Regions from separate parts of the Homo sapiens genome. Here region 2 is linked to region 1. Evidence: fine-mapped expression QTL. Tissue or cell type: monocytes. Region 1 holds a variant in brackets; the other region holds the start of a gene. All regions are shown on one strand. Distances are between the middles of the regions.

Region 1 (8,188 bases):
GAAAGCAGTCTCAACTTGGAATAAAGAAAAGCCAGTTGGGGATTTATAGCCAATGAGCAGAGTGAAGGGGTCAGCGGATGGAAAATTCCTAAGAGGAGACATCAAGGGTCGGGACATTCTTGCTAAACTGAGCTAACAGGATTTTTGCTAGAGGCACAAGTCAAATTCTTATACATCGACGGTAAGGGATGAAGGGGTTCAGGAGATATCAAGAGTGGAGGACTCCAACCTAAACTGATTTGGCAGGATTCTTGCTAAAACTGGGATGGGCAGGCCAAAGGCAGGACAGGAGCCAGGGCTGAGCCCTAGTGAAGAAGAGGGCTAAGAGGAGGCTGAGTAAGGTTTGGTCAAGGAGAGAGTCTTTGTTACCACCTGTCCTGGTATGTATCTGATACGATTCTTTAAATTGACTTTAGATTTTAGCTTTATACTTGGGGCGGGGGGTGGAGACTACCAGAAAAGACAGGGTGCTGTAGGCTTCAAAAAAATAAATAAATAAAATAAATAAGTTTTAGCTTCATGCATGGATTCAGGAACTACTAAAAATAATGGCAAAGGCTTGGCGTGGTGGCTCATGCCTGTCATCCCAGCACTTTGGAAGGCCGAGGCGGGCAGATCACGAGGTCAGGAGATTGAGACCATCCTAGCTAACACGGTGAAATCCCGTCTCTGCTAAAAATACAAAAAATTAGCCAGGCGTGGTGGCAGGCGCCTGTAGTCCCAGCTACTCGGGAGGCTGAGGCAGGAGAATGGCGTGAACCCAGGAGGCGGAGATTGCAGTGAGCCAAGATTGCGCCACTGCACTCCAGCCTGGATGACAGAGTTAGACTCCGTCTCACACACACACACACACACAAAAATAATAATAATAATGGCAAAAACTGCAATTACTTTTGCACAAACCTAATAGTTTTTTATATATATATTTTATATATATATATTTCATATATATTTGGAGGATATATATATTTCATATATATTTGGAGGATATACATTTCATATACATATTTGGAGGATATATACTTCATATACGTATTTGGAGACTGTATATATACTTGATATACATATTTGGAGGCCATATATATATTTCATATATATTTGGAGGCTATATATATTTCATATATATATTTGGAGGCTATATATATTTCATATATATATATTTGGAGGCTATATATATTTCATATACATATTTGGAGGCTATATATATTTCATATACATATTTGGAGGCTATATATATTTCATATACATATTTGGAGGCTATATATATTTCATATACATATTTGGAGGCTATATATATTTCATATACATATTTGTAGGCTGTATATATTTCATATACATATTTGTAGGCTGTATATATTTCATATATATATTTGTAGGCTGTATATATTTCATATATATATTTGGAGGCTATATATATTTCATATATATATTTGGAGGCTATATTTCATATATATATTTGGAGGCTATATATATTTCATATATATTTGGAGGCTATATATTTCATATACATATTTGGAGGATATATATATTTCATATATATGTTTGGAGGATATATACATTTCACATATATATGAAAATACATACATGTATTTTCTAACATGCATTAAAATAAATGCATAACTATTCAGATTTTAAGGTCGTTTGTGTACCACCTAAAATTGTCCTACATACCACCAGTGGTACACATACTGCACTTTGGGAAATGCAGGTTTTACAAAGAACACAGAAACGTGGAAGGGAAGGCTATATTCCAGCCCTGGCTGGCATGCTGGCTGCCAGCTCTAAGTCGATTACTTCGGGCACCTCCTGAGGCTCAGAGAAATGGCTAAAGACACTCTCGGAAGGAATGGAGGTGGGACGAGGGTGAGGTTCAGTGGACTGAGTTTCCTCCCACCCCTACCACTGCCCAGATGTGGAGCTGGACCTCCAGAGGAGCGTGCAGGCTGTGCTCCGGGAGCTCAGCACCCAGGCCCCTGCCCTGCAGAGCAACCAAGGTAAGAGCCAGCTGGCAGCAGCAGCTGGTCCCTCTGACCTCCACCCAACCCCAGCCAACAATACACGCGCATACAGGAAAGAGCCCCGGCCTGGAGCTCAGGGGGCAAGGGTCGTCTCACCAAACCCCTTTCCTGCTGGAAATACCTAGAGCCTGAAGGACTGAGAAGGCTTCTCTGCTCCCTAGTTCAACCCTCCCAGCAACTGCCACAGAGCACATTGGGGATCTGCCACCCTTTTTCTTTCCTTTTTTTTTTCTTTTGTTTTTGAGATGGAGTCCTACTCTGTCACCCAGGCTGCAGTGCAGTGGTGCAAACTCGGCTCACCACAACCTCTGCCTCCCTGGTTCAAGCGATCCTCCTGCCTCAGCCTCCCAAGTAGCTGAGATTACAGGCGTGTGCCACCATGCCCTGCTAATTTTTGTATTTTTCGTAGAGATGCAGTTTCACCATGTTGGCCAGGTTGGTCTCGAACTCCTGACCGCAAGTGACCCGCCTGTCTCAGCCTCCCAAAGTGCTGGGATTGCAGGCATGAGCCACGGCACCCGGCCTGCCACCCTCTTTGTTAACCACCTTCCCTAGCTCCACTTCCAAACCTAATTCCCCTCAGCACTCCAGGCCTGCAGGACTTCCAGAATGTGGCTCGGAGCACACACCTGCAAGCACTGCTGCTCTGTGGTCCACACGCATACACCTGTCACACACCTGTCCCCACTGGTGTGTCCCACCTGCCCTCCTTTCTGCCCTGGGAATTCACTGTCCACAAAGGGCTACAGACTAGAACTCCCCACTTGGGAGGAGCCCACCCAGGTGCACCTGGAGCCAAGCGCTGGTGGCGGGGTCACACCCGTGGCTGGTCAGAGCTGCAGCTGAGGCTCCAGGGCTCAGGGTCCTGCTCAGAGGGGTCTCCTCTAAGAACTGCCCACCTGCTCATGCCGGGCTCCCCTTTCTCCTGGCCCAGGCATGTGGAGGTGGTCCCTGCACAAGAAGGTCGAGCGAGATCCCGGTAAGAGCCCAGTGCTGGTCCGCATTCTTCTCAGAGAACTGGAGAAGGTGAGTTCCTGGACCTCAGGGAGGAAGACGGGGATGAAAGGAAGAGAGGGGCCAATTGGGCAGGGGCTCAGTCCTGGCAGCGCTATATCTCATAAGCTTTGGTTGCCTGCATGATTTTTACCATATGCATCTCCCTCCTGTACTTTTACGTAAGCAGTATTTTCTTTACGTCGACTCTCATTGTTTTACTTGAATAAACATCTTTCAAAAAGAAGCACTATAACGCGACCACAAATGGAAAACCCGCATCACTTGTCAGAAACAGAAGGTACCTATAAACATAAATATACGACTATTGACGTTTCTCAAAATTATCCTCGGGCCACCTAAATTCTCCTTCACACTACCCAATGTTGTACTTTGCAACCGTTTGGGAAACACTGCACTCAAGGGAGGCTCCGAGCTGAGGACTTGTTTGTTGCTTTGCTGCGACTCCTACCCTAATTAAATTTGGCCCCTCACCTGCAGAGTTCTCTGAGGCCCCCCCACGCTCCCACACCCTC[A/C]CTGAGGGGCTTCCTCACCTGTGTGCCCTCCCCTCCCCACTCCTCTATCCAGAGCAGACAATGGCCCTTTGCTCTCCCCCTGGCTGCCTTCCACCCCATCTCCTGCCCACTCCCAGCCTAGACTGCCTCCCGCTATGAAGTGGGGATTCCCCCAGCCCAATACCTGTCACGTGATCTCCTGTTTTCCAGGCGGAAAGCCAGGACCTCCGGCATGTCATCATTCCCTTGCTGCACACTGTAATGTACGTGCTCACCAAGGTGAGCTGGGGACTGAGGTCGAGGTGGTAGTGGTGACCTGCATGTGGCTGGGCTGGACACTCTCCCCTTAGTGGGCACTCAGTCTCCGCCAGGATGAGCCTAGAAAATCCCTTGGATTGCCTGCCCTAAACTGGCTTCTGAGCACTAGCCACCCCCTTTCCCTCCCATATGGAGAGAGAACTCTGGAGAGACAATGGCCTTGAAAGGCAGGATGAGGTCTTTGGGTTTGCTCCTGTGTGCAGTGCAACAGGAGACATCACTGATCCCTACACAGAGAAGAGACATGATACTCATGTGGTTAATGTCTCAGGAGGAGTAATCGGGAGCTGCGTGTTGTTGCAGCGGGTGGGAGTGGTGGTTAAGGCAGGCAGGAAGACCAAGTCTGGGGTTGCTGGAGAGTCCAGGGTCAAGATGGGGCTTAGCTCCGGCAGAGACGGAGGGCACACTGAGGTCGGGAGGGAGAGGGGGGCCTCCCGGGCACTGTGGAGCATTTCAGGCCTGTGGGATGCAAGGAGGAGCAAAGGAGACTGAGGAAGTGCCTCCATGGTTTTGAGCCTGGAGAACCGCAGGAATGTGCTTCCCTGATGGAGCAGGAGGGCTGGGAGGAAGTTGATTTGCTTGCATAACTTGATGCAATGAATTTTTATCTTGGTAAGTTGGGGCGGGGCGACAAATGGATGTCTTACAGGTGCTGGGAGAAGAGGCTGGAAGGTGTGGGTTTGGGAGAGAGCTGTGAGCCCAGGTCTGGCTGTTAGGCCTGACCTTCCACCTCTTCTCCCAAGCCCCTCCCCGGAAACTCCCCCGGGACCCTTCACCTCCCCCTCCTCCCTCTTACCTCCACCTCCTCCCTCTCACCTCCCCCTCCTCCCTCTCACCCAGGCCACAGGAATCACAGAAGAGCTCTACCAGAGAATCTATGCCTTTTGCACAAGGTTACTGACCCTGCCCACCCCCTACTGCACAGTCGCCTTGGACTGCGCGATAAGGCTGAAAACGGAGATGGCTGTCCCAGGTAAGAGTCACTGGGCATCTTTGTCTCCCACGCTGCACCTCCAACATTGCCCAGGGTCTTTCCTTTTTCTCCAGGATACCGGGGAGCTCAAAAGCCTCCACACCTTCTGTAGGAAGGTGGAGAATGGGAGTCAGAGACTTGGGGGCTGTTTGGCCAAAGTGGTCTGGTTTGCAGGGACACTGTACCAAAGGATGGTCATTGCCGAACAGAACTTGACGAATGAGCTGTATCCCTACCAGGAGAGGTGAGTGGCCCCAGAAAAATTGCTACCTTCAGCCTCCTAAAACTGTTGTGGCTTTAGTGACTGCTCCCTGGCAGGAGGACAAAAGAGGAGGCTGGATTAAGAAGAGCCCTAGCAGACCTCCCCAGCCATGATATTTGTCCAGCAGTGGGGTGCGTTTGCCATTCAAGGTTGGCGCCATATTGTTTTCTGGAGACCACTGAACACAGGATAGGTCTTTCTTCTCAGGTTGGATTGGAAGCTACCCTGCTCACATGCAGAAGGTGGACATGGCCTCGGGGCCACTCTGGGGCTCTGTCATTCCACCTCCATCCTGCCCTTGGCCATAATGCAGCATCATACCAGCCAGGCAGCCAGAGGAGACTCCAGAATAGCCATAGCGGAGGGGCTCAGGCGCAAGTGCACAATGAAGCCAGAGGGCTTCCATGGGGGACGCCAAGCCTCTTAGATAAGACTGAGGAAGTGTCCCCTGCTCGTGTTGGGGAGAGGGGTGATGAAGTTGGGAGCGGCACCTCCCTCTTCTGCAGGCACCTCCACTAACTTGGCCCTGAAAGGCACAGCTTGAGTTTGGGGTGTGAGGTGCTGAGTTCATGAAAGATGCAAGGAGGCCCAGGGCACCCATGGGAGAGGTGGGGAGACACAGTGGGTGAGGAGGAGGGAGTAGGGGAGGTTGGCTCTCTGGTGTGATAAGAGTGATGAAAGAAGGTGAGATTCACTCAGAGTTCAGAACTCCAGTTCTGGCAGGAAGGATTTAGGGTCCCTCCTAGAGGGTGACCTGGTCCCTGGGCCAGGATGCTGAGAGAGGGAGCAGGATTGAGGCTGGAACTTTCCTAAACATGGGACTAGGCCTGCTTTCCTCTGTGGACAGTGGATTAGAGCTGCCCCTCTAGAAGGGCTGTGCATGCTCTTATTTGCCACAGTCCTCACCACTCCCTATTGTCATCCCACCCAGAGACTTTTGAATCTGAGACTCCTCTTTTTAGCAGAATTAAATTACTTGGAGGTGCTGCACAGCTCTGAGGGTGCCCATCCGGTGGCCCCTCTCCCATTAGTTACTATCAATCCCACCTCTCCCCTCTGCTTCTGCCCTCAGAGTGTTCCTCTTCGTGGATCCTGAGCTGGTGTCTGCGTCTGTGTGCAGTGCTCTGCTACTGGAGATCGAGGCGGCCCAGGCGCAGCAGACACCAGAGACCTGCATGCGCCACGTGGTCTCCCACGCCCTGCAGGCGGCTCTGGGGGAGGCCTGTCACGCAGGCGCTCTGCACAGGAAGCTGCAGGTAATGGCCCTGCCTGCAGCCCCTTGTCAGTCCCAGCCCTCGTCCCTGCATGCCCATACCAGTCATTCACCCTGCTCTTCCTCCTTCTCCTGTTTCGCATCACCTTTTCCCCCAAATCAAAAATTAATACATTTTGGCTGGGCGCAGTGGCTCACACCTATAACCCCAGCACTTTGGGAGGCTGAGGCGGGTGTATCACCTGAGGTCAGGAGTTCAAGACCAGCCTGGCCAACATGGCGAAATCCAGTCTCTACTAAAGATACAAAAACTAACTGGCCGTGGTGGCGGGCACCTGTAATCCTAGCTACTCTGGAGGCTGAGGCAGGAGAATAGCTTGAACCCGGAAAGTGGAGGTTGCAGTGAGCCAAGATTGTGCCACTGCACTCCAGCCTGGGTGACAGAGAGAGACTCCATTTCCAAAAAAAAAACCAATAATAAGATATAAGATAATGCCAGTATTCCTAGCAGCAGGGTGAATGAGTGTCTCAGCCCCGAAAGCAGGAATCTGGGTCACCACAACAGTAGCTACTACATCATCTCACTCGGAGTCAAAGCCAAAGTGATTGCAATGACCTATAAGAGCCTGGTGTGGTGGTTCATGCCTATAATTGCAGGTACTTGAGAGGCCGAGGCAGGAGGATTGCTTAAGGCCAGGGGTTTGAGACCAGCCTGGGCAACATAGCAAGACCCCATTTCTACAAAAAGTAATAAAAAAAAAAAAATACCAGACGCAGTGACATGTGTTTGCAGTCCCAGCTACTCGGAAGACAAGAGGATCACTTGAGCCAAGTTCAAGGCTGCAGTGAGCTGTGACTGTACCACTGCACTCTAGCCTGGGTAACAGAGAGACACCCCATCTCTAAAAATAAAAATACAAGAACCTCATCTTGAGGGCCTTGACCTGTTCCCATCTCTCTTCATTTCCTCTCTGGCCTGTCTCCTAACTTTCCCTCTCATTTCCTCTGCTCCAGCTAAACAAGCCTCCTCATTTGTCTCCCAACATGCACATGCCTAACATACTTGCACCCCAGGGCCTTTGCGCTGGCTACTCCCTATGCTTGGAACGTTCTCTTAGATACCTGCACGACTCACTCTTTTTTTTTTTTTTTTTTTTTTGAGACGAAGTCTTGCTCTGTTGCCCAGGCTGGAGTGCAGTGGCGTGATCTCGGCTCACTGCAAGCTCCGCCTCCTGGGTTCACGCCATTCTCCTGCCTCAGCCTCTCTGAGTAGCTGGGACTACAGGCGCCGGCCACCACACCCAGCTAATTTTTTCTATTTTTAGTAGAGACGGGGTTTCACCGTGGTCTCCATCTCCTGACCTCGTGATCCACCTACCCCGGCCTTCCAAAGTGCTGAGATTACAAGCGTGAGCCACCGCGCTGGGCTGCATGGCTCACTCTTTCACTTCAAGTCTTTACCTAAAAGTCACTTTCGGCCAAGCGCGGTGGTTCACGCCTGTAATCCCAACACTTTGGGAGGCCAAGGCAGGCAGATCATGAGGTCAGGAGATCGAGACCGTCCTGGCCAACATGGTGAAACCCCGTCTCTACTAAAAATACAAAAATTGGCTGGATGTGGTGGTGCGCACCTGTAGTCCCAGATACTCGGGAGGCTGAGGCAGGAGAATCGCTTGAACCCAGGAGGCAGAGGTTGCAATGAGCCAAAGTCACACCACTGCACTCCAGCCTGGGTGACAGAGCAAGACTCCGTCTCAAAAAAAAAAAAAAAAAAGTCACTTTCTCAGGGGGGGCTTCCCAGATCACACAATCTCTTTTGTTTGCTGCTGTATCCCAGCCCCTAGAACAACACCTGGTGCAGTGAGCTATTCTAAGTGCTGGAGATGCAGCTATGAA
Region 2 (8,172 bases), 30 kb before region 1:
TGGGAGGGTAAAGAAATTGAGGAGGGGGAGGAGAGAGACCCTCCTTTTTTCCTCTTAGGGTCCTACAATGCTTGAGTGTTTTTATAATGGAAATATATTTATGGATTACCTAAGTAGTTTTTGTTCTTCTTGTTGTTGTTTGTTTGTGACGAAGTCTTGCTGTGTCACCCAGGCTGGAGTGCAATGGCACAATCTTGGCTCACTGCAACCTCTGCCTCCCAGGTTTGAGTGATTCTCCTGCCTCAGCCTCCCAAGTAGGTGGGATTACAGGCACCGGCCACCATGCCAGGCTAATTTTTGTATTTTTAGTAGAGACGAGGTTTCACCACATTGGCCAGGCTGGTCTCGAACTCCTGACCTCAGGTGATCCACCTGCCTCGGCCTCCCAGAGTGCTGGGATTACAGGCATGAGCCATCGTGCCTGGCCTACTTGACTAGTTTTTTAAACATTACAGCTTAACAAAAAAAGAACATTGATGGCATTTAAAATAAAAACTTCCCCACCACCACCAAAAATAAGAAAAATAGCTGAGAAGGTGACTGGTTGGATATGAAGCATAAATCCGCTTCTTCTATCACCCCAATTAGTCCTGATTCTGCATGCACTCTGCCAAATAACGCTGCTGGAAGTAAAGGATGGAAAATTCCCGAGGTGTGCACTGTTCCTCCCTTTCCACAGCCACAGCAGACAGTACTAGTTGATAACGGATTTCCAGGGCAATGCTGATGCTGCCAGTCCAGGGACTACCCTTAGCGAACCAGTGGCTTAGAGCATGACGCTGTCCTGCCTGCCTCTGGGCCGTGGGCAAGAGCTGGAGGGACTGCACCAGAGGCAAAGGTGCCCCGCAGTTGGGTACTGCCTGTGCCGAGGCAGTGTGTCGAGTCTCACCTCCACCAGGGATGAGAGCGTTTAAACTTAACCTATCTGTGTAACTGTAGCTGACTCACGAGGTGATTGTTTAAACGAATCAAAATGTGTTTTCCTAACAGCTCTTTTCTGGTTTATTACCTCTCACGGTTTTCTAAAAATGGGTCCTGCCAACCAGAGAGCTATCTGTGTGGGTGGCAGTCATGAATTTGGGGTAGAAAAGTGGGGAGTTGAGAATTAGAATGGAATTACAGTGCTCTGAATGGGCTTCGAAGACAATTTGGATATGTCTGTGAAAAAAATCTAGGAGGGAGGAACCGACGCTAATGAGTCAGGGTCACATGGGGAGAAGAGAGACAGGAAAAAGCACAAAAGCCCACCCCATTCCAGGCTGCCCGCTCCAATGGCATGGCATGGAGGAGGGACGTCGGGATCCTCAGAACTATCCACAGAGGATTTTTGAATAGTTTGCCAAGAGACGTGTGATGTACACTCCCTTCATCCTCCTACATAATCTTTAGTAAAATTGACTTTGCTTATTAGTATTTTATGTAAGTGGATTCCTTAGAAAACTGAAATGACAAATTCTGCCGCCTTCGATGCTGAATAATCCCAGAGCAGCTCCCACGGTGGGTGGCACTGCAGGTGAGGACACAAGCGACCCTGGGGACCTCTTTTCCTAAGCATGTAATTCTTGCCTGACTCCAATACTGTGGTCCTGCAGACCTCCGCAATGCTGGTACCTGGCCCTCCTCACCCGTGGCTCTGTCCACAGTTGCAAGAAGATTTAATTTTTGTTTAAAGCTCTCAGTGGCTTTGTAATGGATTAGAAAATGGATGAGGATGGATTGGAAACAGTGGTTCATCTGTAGAGAAGGTAAGTAACTTTGTAACCCCAAGGCGAGTTATGTAAACAGACTTCCAAACACCCTGGCTGAGATAGGAGAACCTGAAGAGAGGCCATTGCAGCTATGCCCAGAAGGGTCACCAGGAGTGGGGACCCTCACTTGGCAGAGGAGGGTGGCAGAAGGAGGAGGAGGAAGGGGAGTGACAATAGATGGTGGGCCTTCTGCTTCTGTATCTTGGGCATTGATCATTCTGGGGGGTCTTTGCCTCCATTAGCTGACCAGGTCATCTGGGAACTAGTACAGTGAAAGCAGGGAACCTTAATTTTTACAGTTCTGATGCTGACGGATCATTTGCCTTTTGGCAGGGAAAGAGGGGGCTGCTCTTTGGAGACTGGTGCAGATGAGAAACCTGGTAAGAGCACAGCCTGGAAAACCCAGATTAAACAAATCCTAAGAACATGGTCTGGAGAGGAAAGACATGGCTGGGATTGGCAAAAGGGGTAGTGCTGCCTTGCCTTGGTGATGGTAGGGACGGTGCACTGGGGTCCGTGGGGGAACTTGGTCCTTCCTATTGTCACCTCCTCCTCCCACTGTCCTTTGTTCCTGGCTGGCGGTCAGCCGTGTGCACTCAAAAATGAAAGCACCCTAGCTCCTCTTTGCAAGGGACAGCTCTGGGGCTCTCTATGGTCACCAAGCTGCCCCCTCTATGGGTACCACAGCAAATGCAGTTGCAGAAATGGCAGCTGATGATAAAGAGAGCAGTGCACCCACAAGAAGTGACCTCGGCTTGTGATTTCCGATTCAGTTAAGCCAAGGCTGATAAGGAGAGGCGCTGCCCAGGGTGGCCACACTGCCCAGCTGCTGCTGAGTCTGGAACCTGCAGGGGCTGAGTTCTTGGTCCTTTATTCTGTCCTGGGCGTATTCGTTTCCTTCGTTCAGTCACCCATTTGCTTCATAAATAAGCCAAGCATTCTCTTAACACTCTTTCACCCTGTGATGGACGGAATAATGAACAACACTCTAGCCCCTGCTCTTTCAGGACTCATTGAGGGAGGAACAAGGCAGACATGTGAGCTGAGAACGCTAATACAAAGATGCAAGATAGAATGTGACTTCAGTCACATGAAGGGGACAGAAAAGAAGCAGTTATGGGAGGAAGGCACAGCAATAGAGTAAATGATTTACATTTCTGGACTTTTTTTCCAAATAGCTTCCTCTGCAAAATGAAAGGTCAGCATAGAACCTAGTCAAGCCCCTACGGGAAAGGATCAGTGACTTCACAGCCCCAAAGCTCTCTGAGTTGAGCCAAGTGACAAACTCCAACAGGCTTAATCCAAAAAAGAATGGAATTTATTGGATCATGTACAATGAACAGTCCAAGAGTAGATTCAGCCCCAGAATTTCAGGCATAGCTGGATCCAGCACTCAAACCCTGCTGTCAGCAATCTGTCACTCTCTAGAGCCATTTACCCATTAGGCCCAACGGGATGACAGCATAGAATCTGTGAGTTTTTCAAAGCTCTAGAAATGTGTCAGAGACTCTCCCAAATAGTGTTTGACTTCAAAATGTGAAAAAAAGAAAATGACAAAGTAGCAAATGTGTCACCATGCGGTTGATCAACTTCCCCCAGCAGGTCTACTGTTCCTGCCCAGCACTGCTCTCTCCTAATTGCCAAGGACAGCAGATGCTTCTTCATTCTCTTCACCTGTGTCCTCTCCACAATCATTGGCGTCGTTGACCATTGTCTCCTCCTTGGCATTCTGTCTTCTGCCAGCATCCCTGGCACTCCACTTTCCTCCTGCCTCTTAGGCTTGTTTTTTTGTTCTTCTCTGATAAATAATGAATGACAAGGGATGAGCCAGGAGAAGGGTTGGGAAGTGATTCCCACAGCCTGGATAGTTAAGAGACTGCAGTACTTCTGGGAGGGGCTGGAGTGAGGGGATAAAGCATGAGGTTGGAGTTTAGGGAGGGACCAGATCAAGAAGGGTCTGGCAAGTCACACTGAGGAGTTTGGCCATTCTCTTTAAAGTAATAAGGAGCCATTGAAGGTTGTAGCAGGAGTGTAACATGAATAGATTTGTGTTTCACTCTTAGAAAGAGACCTTTGGCTGTGGGGTGAAGGACCTCAGGCTATTGTAGTGTTTCAGGAGAAAGACCATGGTAGTCAGGTGAAACAGTGACAGCCATAGGGATGGAAGAAAGTGGAGGATCCATGACCTATTGACAGGGCTTGGTGCAGTTTAGATGTAACAGGCGAGGAAGAGGGAGGCGTTAGGATGATACCGAGGTTGCTGATTCTGAGGCAGGAAACAGAGAAGTGGGCTTAGAGGGAGAAATGATGAGCTCGGTTTGTACCTGTTGAGATGGAGGTGCTTGAGGGACATCTGGCTGGCCATGTCCAGGGGTGGGGGATGGTTGGTGAGTCTGGAGCTTGAGAGAGAGGTCAGGGCTCCCTGCATCAGTCCCTCCCCCGTCAACACCAGAGGGAGTCTCTTGGGAGGTGTCCCCCTCCTGCCCCATAAAATTGGTCACATTCGATCAGAATAAAGGACCTCCAGTGACCGTGGGTCATGCTTCTTTAGAAAGGATCCTCACAGCAAAATGCATTCTGGGAGGAGCTTCGAGGGCCACAAGGAAGGGGAAGGAAGAGGAGGGGACAGAGCTGTGAGACATCGAGCTTTTCTTTGCAGATCTGAAGAGCACAGTCAAGACCACAGACACCCGTGGAGGCTCCCCCAAGACATCTGCTTCTCTGGGACTGGGGACCTCGCTCAGGACCGTGGGGAGTTGGCTGAAGGACTTGGGGAGCCCAGAAGCTGCCACCGAACCAAGGTAAGTGCTGGCTTGGATGGAGATCGCCAGGCAGGCAGATCTGAGCAGAACAGATAGAGGGGTGGAACGGAGGGACCTGGAAGGGGAGCCCCTGGGGGGGCTGAAACACCCCTGGCTCTTATTTATCCAGGCTCAGGGCTGCCAGGGCCGTCTTTCTGAGAAGGGTGACCTCAGACACTGCAGGGTAATTCTGCCAAGTTAAGATTGTTTCAGCCCATTTTCACAAGATGAAAAGACACGGGACCCTGTGAGAAGGACTCTCCTTTCTTCTGGAATCCTGTACATGCTGTTAATAATAGGACTAATGATTGATGCCCGGTGCTGCAGAGTACACCCATTTTCCCATTTGATTCTCACCAGCATTTAGAGGTTGACTGGATAAGTGTTTTAGTGCCATTTTATAGAACAGAAGACTGAGGCTTAGGGAGATGAAGCAACTTGCCAAAGATTGCAGAGTGGGTTAGCAAGGAGCAGGACTCAGTGTGAAACATCTGGGTCCCAGTCTGTGCCCTTTCTGGGACATCATCTGCCCATCACTTTCCTGGGGAATTTGGTGAAAGTCATGCTGGTCTGGCTGATTCTCTTCCTATACACAAATCCAGTATCTTCTATGTGTGCCAGAGTCTGACCGAGGCCTGGTCTCTGTCCTTGAAGGGCTGACTGCTTGCAAAGAGGGTCTGAACACAGCTGCGAGTGACCAACTCAGAACCTTCAGGGTCCTCAGCGAGCCAGGAGGTGTGTGGTGTGTGCAGGATGAAAGAGACTGCAGGGTGCGGGCTCAGGGAGGGTCCCGTGGAAGGTGGTGCCTGGCTGAGGCTCAAGGGAGGACCTGGTGTGCAAAGAGGAGGCAAGAGGCACCTCAGCAATGGGGAGCAAAGTGTGCAAACCCCCAGAGGCAGGAAAGCAAGTGGGAAAGTCAGGTGTTGGGGGGAGCACAGCTAGAGGGGGTGTGTGGAGCACTCGCAGGCCGGTCCTTTTTTGTTGTTGTTGAGACAGTCTCACGCTTTTGCGCAGGCTGGAGTGTAGTGGTGCGATCTCGGCTCACTGCAACCTCCGTCTCCTGGGTTCAAGCGATTCTCCTGCCTCAGCCTCCCAAGTAGCTGGGACTACAGGCACACACCACCACGCCTGGCTAATTTTTTGTATTTTTAGTAGTAATTTTTTGTGTTTTCACCGTGTTAGCCAGGATGGTCTTGATCTCCTGACCTCGTGATCCACCCACCTCGGCCTCCCATAGTGCTGGGATTACAGGCATGAGCCACAGCGCCTGGCCCGGTCCATTTATTTATTTAGCTCTATGTGGTTTTCAAATATCATCTCATTTAGTCTCATGACAAGCCTATGAGGTAGGTGTTGTTGTCAGGTCCCCTTTAAGATAGGGAAACTGAGGCACGGAGGTTTTAAGCAAGCAGCCCAAGTTGCCCTATTAACAGGATTGGAATGCCACCTGCCTGGCCACCATGCCCCGCTGCCTCACACTAGAACCTGCTGCAGGCCCTACACTGTCTCCACGAAAGCGCCTCGGCTGACACGGTGGCTGCAGATGCCAAGCTGCAGTCATCGCCATCTGGTCCCTGCTGCATTCAGGCCCCACCTGAATTCAGATCCCACCAAGCTTCCCTGCCCCTGGGAACAATGCTCCCCCACCCCCACCCCACTGGCTCTTTCATATCCAGGTGTTTCCTTCCAGCCAGAAGCAGACACAGCTGAGGAAACAGGCCTGTCCTTGTCCACGGGGGCCAGCCAGGGCAGCAGGACCCTCACCTCCCGGCTCCTTGGGAATCTGAGAAGTAGACCTCATGGGGGCAAGGGCTAAAGGTTGAGGGGGCCCCCTCAGGACCCAGAGCTCTGTCCTCTCACTCCCTTAGTCCCTCACTGCCAGCTCACTCACCACACGCTCCGATCCAAAAAAAAAAAAAACACAGCTATGACGTCTGGCAAGCCTGAGCTGCCCCTGAAACCCTGAGGGCACGAGGCAGCTCTGGTGGGAGAAGAGGGGAGGCAACAGAGGCAGGTGACCCAGGCTCTGCAGGTCCCCTCTCTCTGTGCCACAGGAGTGGCTGGAGGACAGGAGGCAGACAGAGTGTGGCCCTGGGAAGCTCCCCGTCTTTTCTGCCAGGGCTTTATTCCTGCAGCTGTGGTATAGGGAGGCCTGGAAGCTCCACATCTTTTCTGCCCAGGCTTTATTCCTGCAGGTATAGGGAGGCCTAGGTGGTGGGTTCTTCTGTCTGAACAGCTTGTCCGAGAAGCCAGCAATGGTGAGCTGGGGGGATGGGGGCACAAGGGACAGTCAGATCTGGAATCTTCATGTTCAGAATCTTCAGGTTCAGAAACTCTGAACCTGAGCCAGGCTTCCTCAGATCTTCCTCCAAGCCCTCTTACTTCAGTCTTCTCCTCTATCCAGGAGGTCACCCCCACTTTATCTCACACCAACAACAGGGAGCAGCAGCTGTGAACAGGTGGTCCCCATTTGCTTCTTTTTGCCGTGTCCATAGAAGGCTTCTATGGTTCTGTGGTCAGTCCTTGGGCTTGTTGTACCCCAAGGGAGTGATGAGCTGTGTGTGTGCACCTGGCCTGCGACTTGTTCAGTGCTGATGTTCTGTGTTTAAGGAAGAATGCTCTCTGAATCCCAATTCATTCATCCCTTCATTCTTTGTCTCTGATCTCATCCCTCTGCCAGGAACTGTGAAGGGGCTGGGTGCGGTGGCTCACGCCTGTAATCCCAGCACTTTGGGAGGCCGAGGTGGGTGGATCACGAGGTCAAGAGATCGAGACCATCCTGGCCAACACGGTGAAACCCCGTCTCTACTAAAAATACAACAAATTAGCTGGGCGTGGTGGCGGGCGCCTGTGGTCCCAGGTACTCGGGAGGCTGAGGCTGGAGAATCACCTGAACCCAGTAGGCAGAGGTTGCAGTGAGACGAGATTGCGCCACTGCACTCCAGTCTGGCGACAGAGTGAGACTCTGTCTAAAAAAAAAAAAAAAAAAAAAAAAAAAAGAGCTGTGAAGGACCTGGGTTATAAGTTAGAAGGATCTGTTAGTTATAAGTTAACTTAGAACTAACAAGTTAGCCCACCACAGCTTCATGGTCACCAGCAGAAGACATGAGACTCCAGAGTCAGAGACAAAGAACTCTATTACTCACAGCACAACTAGGAGCATGAACATTGTGATTATAGGTCCCCCTTTCCCCTAAGTCCTAGGGGCGCCGCAAGGAGCCCAATCCAAATGGACTCTGTTGCATCATAGCCCAGGAACCCTGAGCCTAGGAAACCCCAAATTTTCATGACGAGCTGCAAACAAACCTGCCCAACTTTTACCCTGAAAGGAGACATTATCTCTATTATATTGACAGCAAATTAGTCTTCTGTCCTAGAATGGACAGTATCTTCCAAGGCTGTTTGCTATACAAACGTATTTGAAAAGATGGTGCAGAAGAATGCTCACCAGGCATGCACAAACAGAAACCTATGGAGAATTGTCTCCCAACATCTTCCTAGTGTCCCCCACTCATTGCACCCCAAACGCTGTCCCTTAAAAACACTGGGCACCCTTGCAACTCAGGACTTGGCTATTCTCTTTGCTTAGAGCGTTCTTCCTGCAGATACCGCATGGCTTGCTG

The links. PIP is the estimated chance that this variant, and not a neighbour inherited with it, causes the effect.
Region 2: PIK3R6 starts here. The variant in region 1 is fine-mapped to the expression of PIK3R6 in monocytes (TOPMed, PIP 0.94).

What each region holds. Positions count from the first base shown.
Region 1 is chr17:8,833,420-8,841,607 of GRCh38, reverse strand. PIK3R6 (phosphoinositide-3-kinase regulatory subunit 6) reads left to right here. Exons shown (of 20, transcript NM_001010855.4): 3 at 1,911-1,994; 4 at 2,953-3,044; 5 at 3,737-3,805; 6 at 4,685-4,817; 7 at 4,992-5,061; 8 at 6,152-6,335. Among named protein-coding and RNA genes, the nearest start is that of PIK3R6, 30 kb to the left of the region's middle. RefSeq lists an enhancer at 3,976-4,782. The variant A/C (reference allele first, on the strand shown) is at 3,548.
Region 2 is chr17:8,863,906-8,872,077 of GRCh38, reverse strand. PIK3R6 (phosphoinositide-3-kinase regulatory subunit 6) reads left to right here and starts at 4,404. Exons shown (of 20, transcript NM_001010855.4): 1 at 4,404-4,549. LOC107985071 (a long non-coding RNA gene) reads right to left here and starts at 4,304. Exons shown (of 2, transcript XR_001752787.2): 1 at 4,073-4,304; 2 at 3,045-3,546. RefSeq lists enhancers at 4,276-4,425, 4,456-4,635, 6,459-6,808, 6,919-7,058, 7,109-7,178.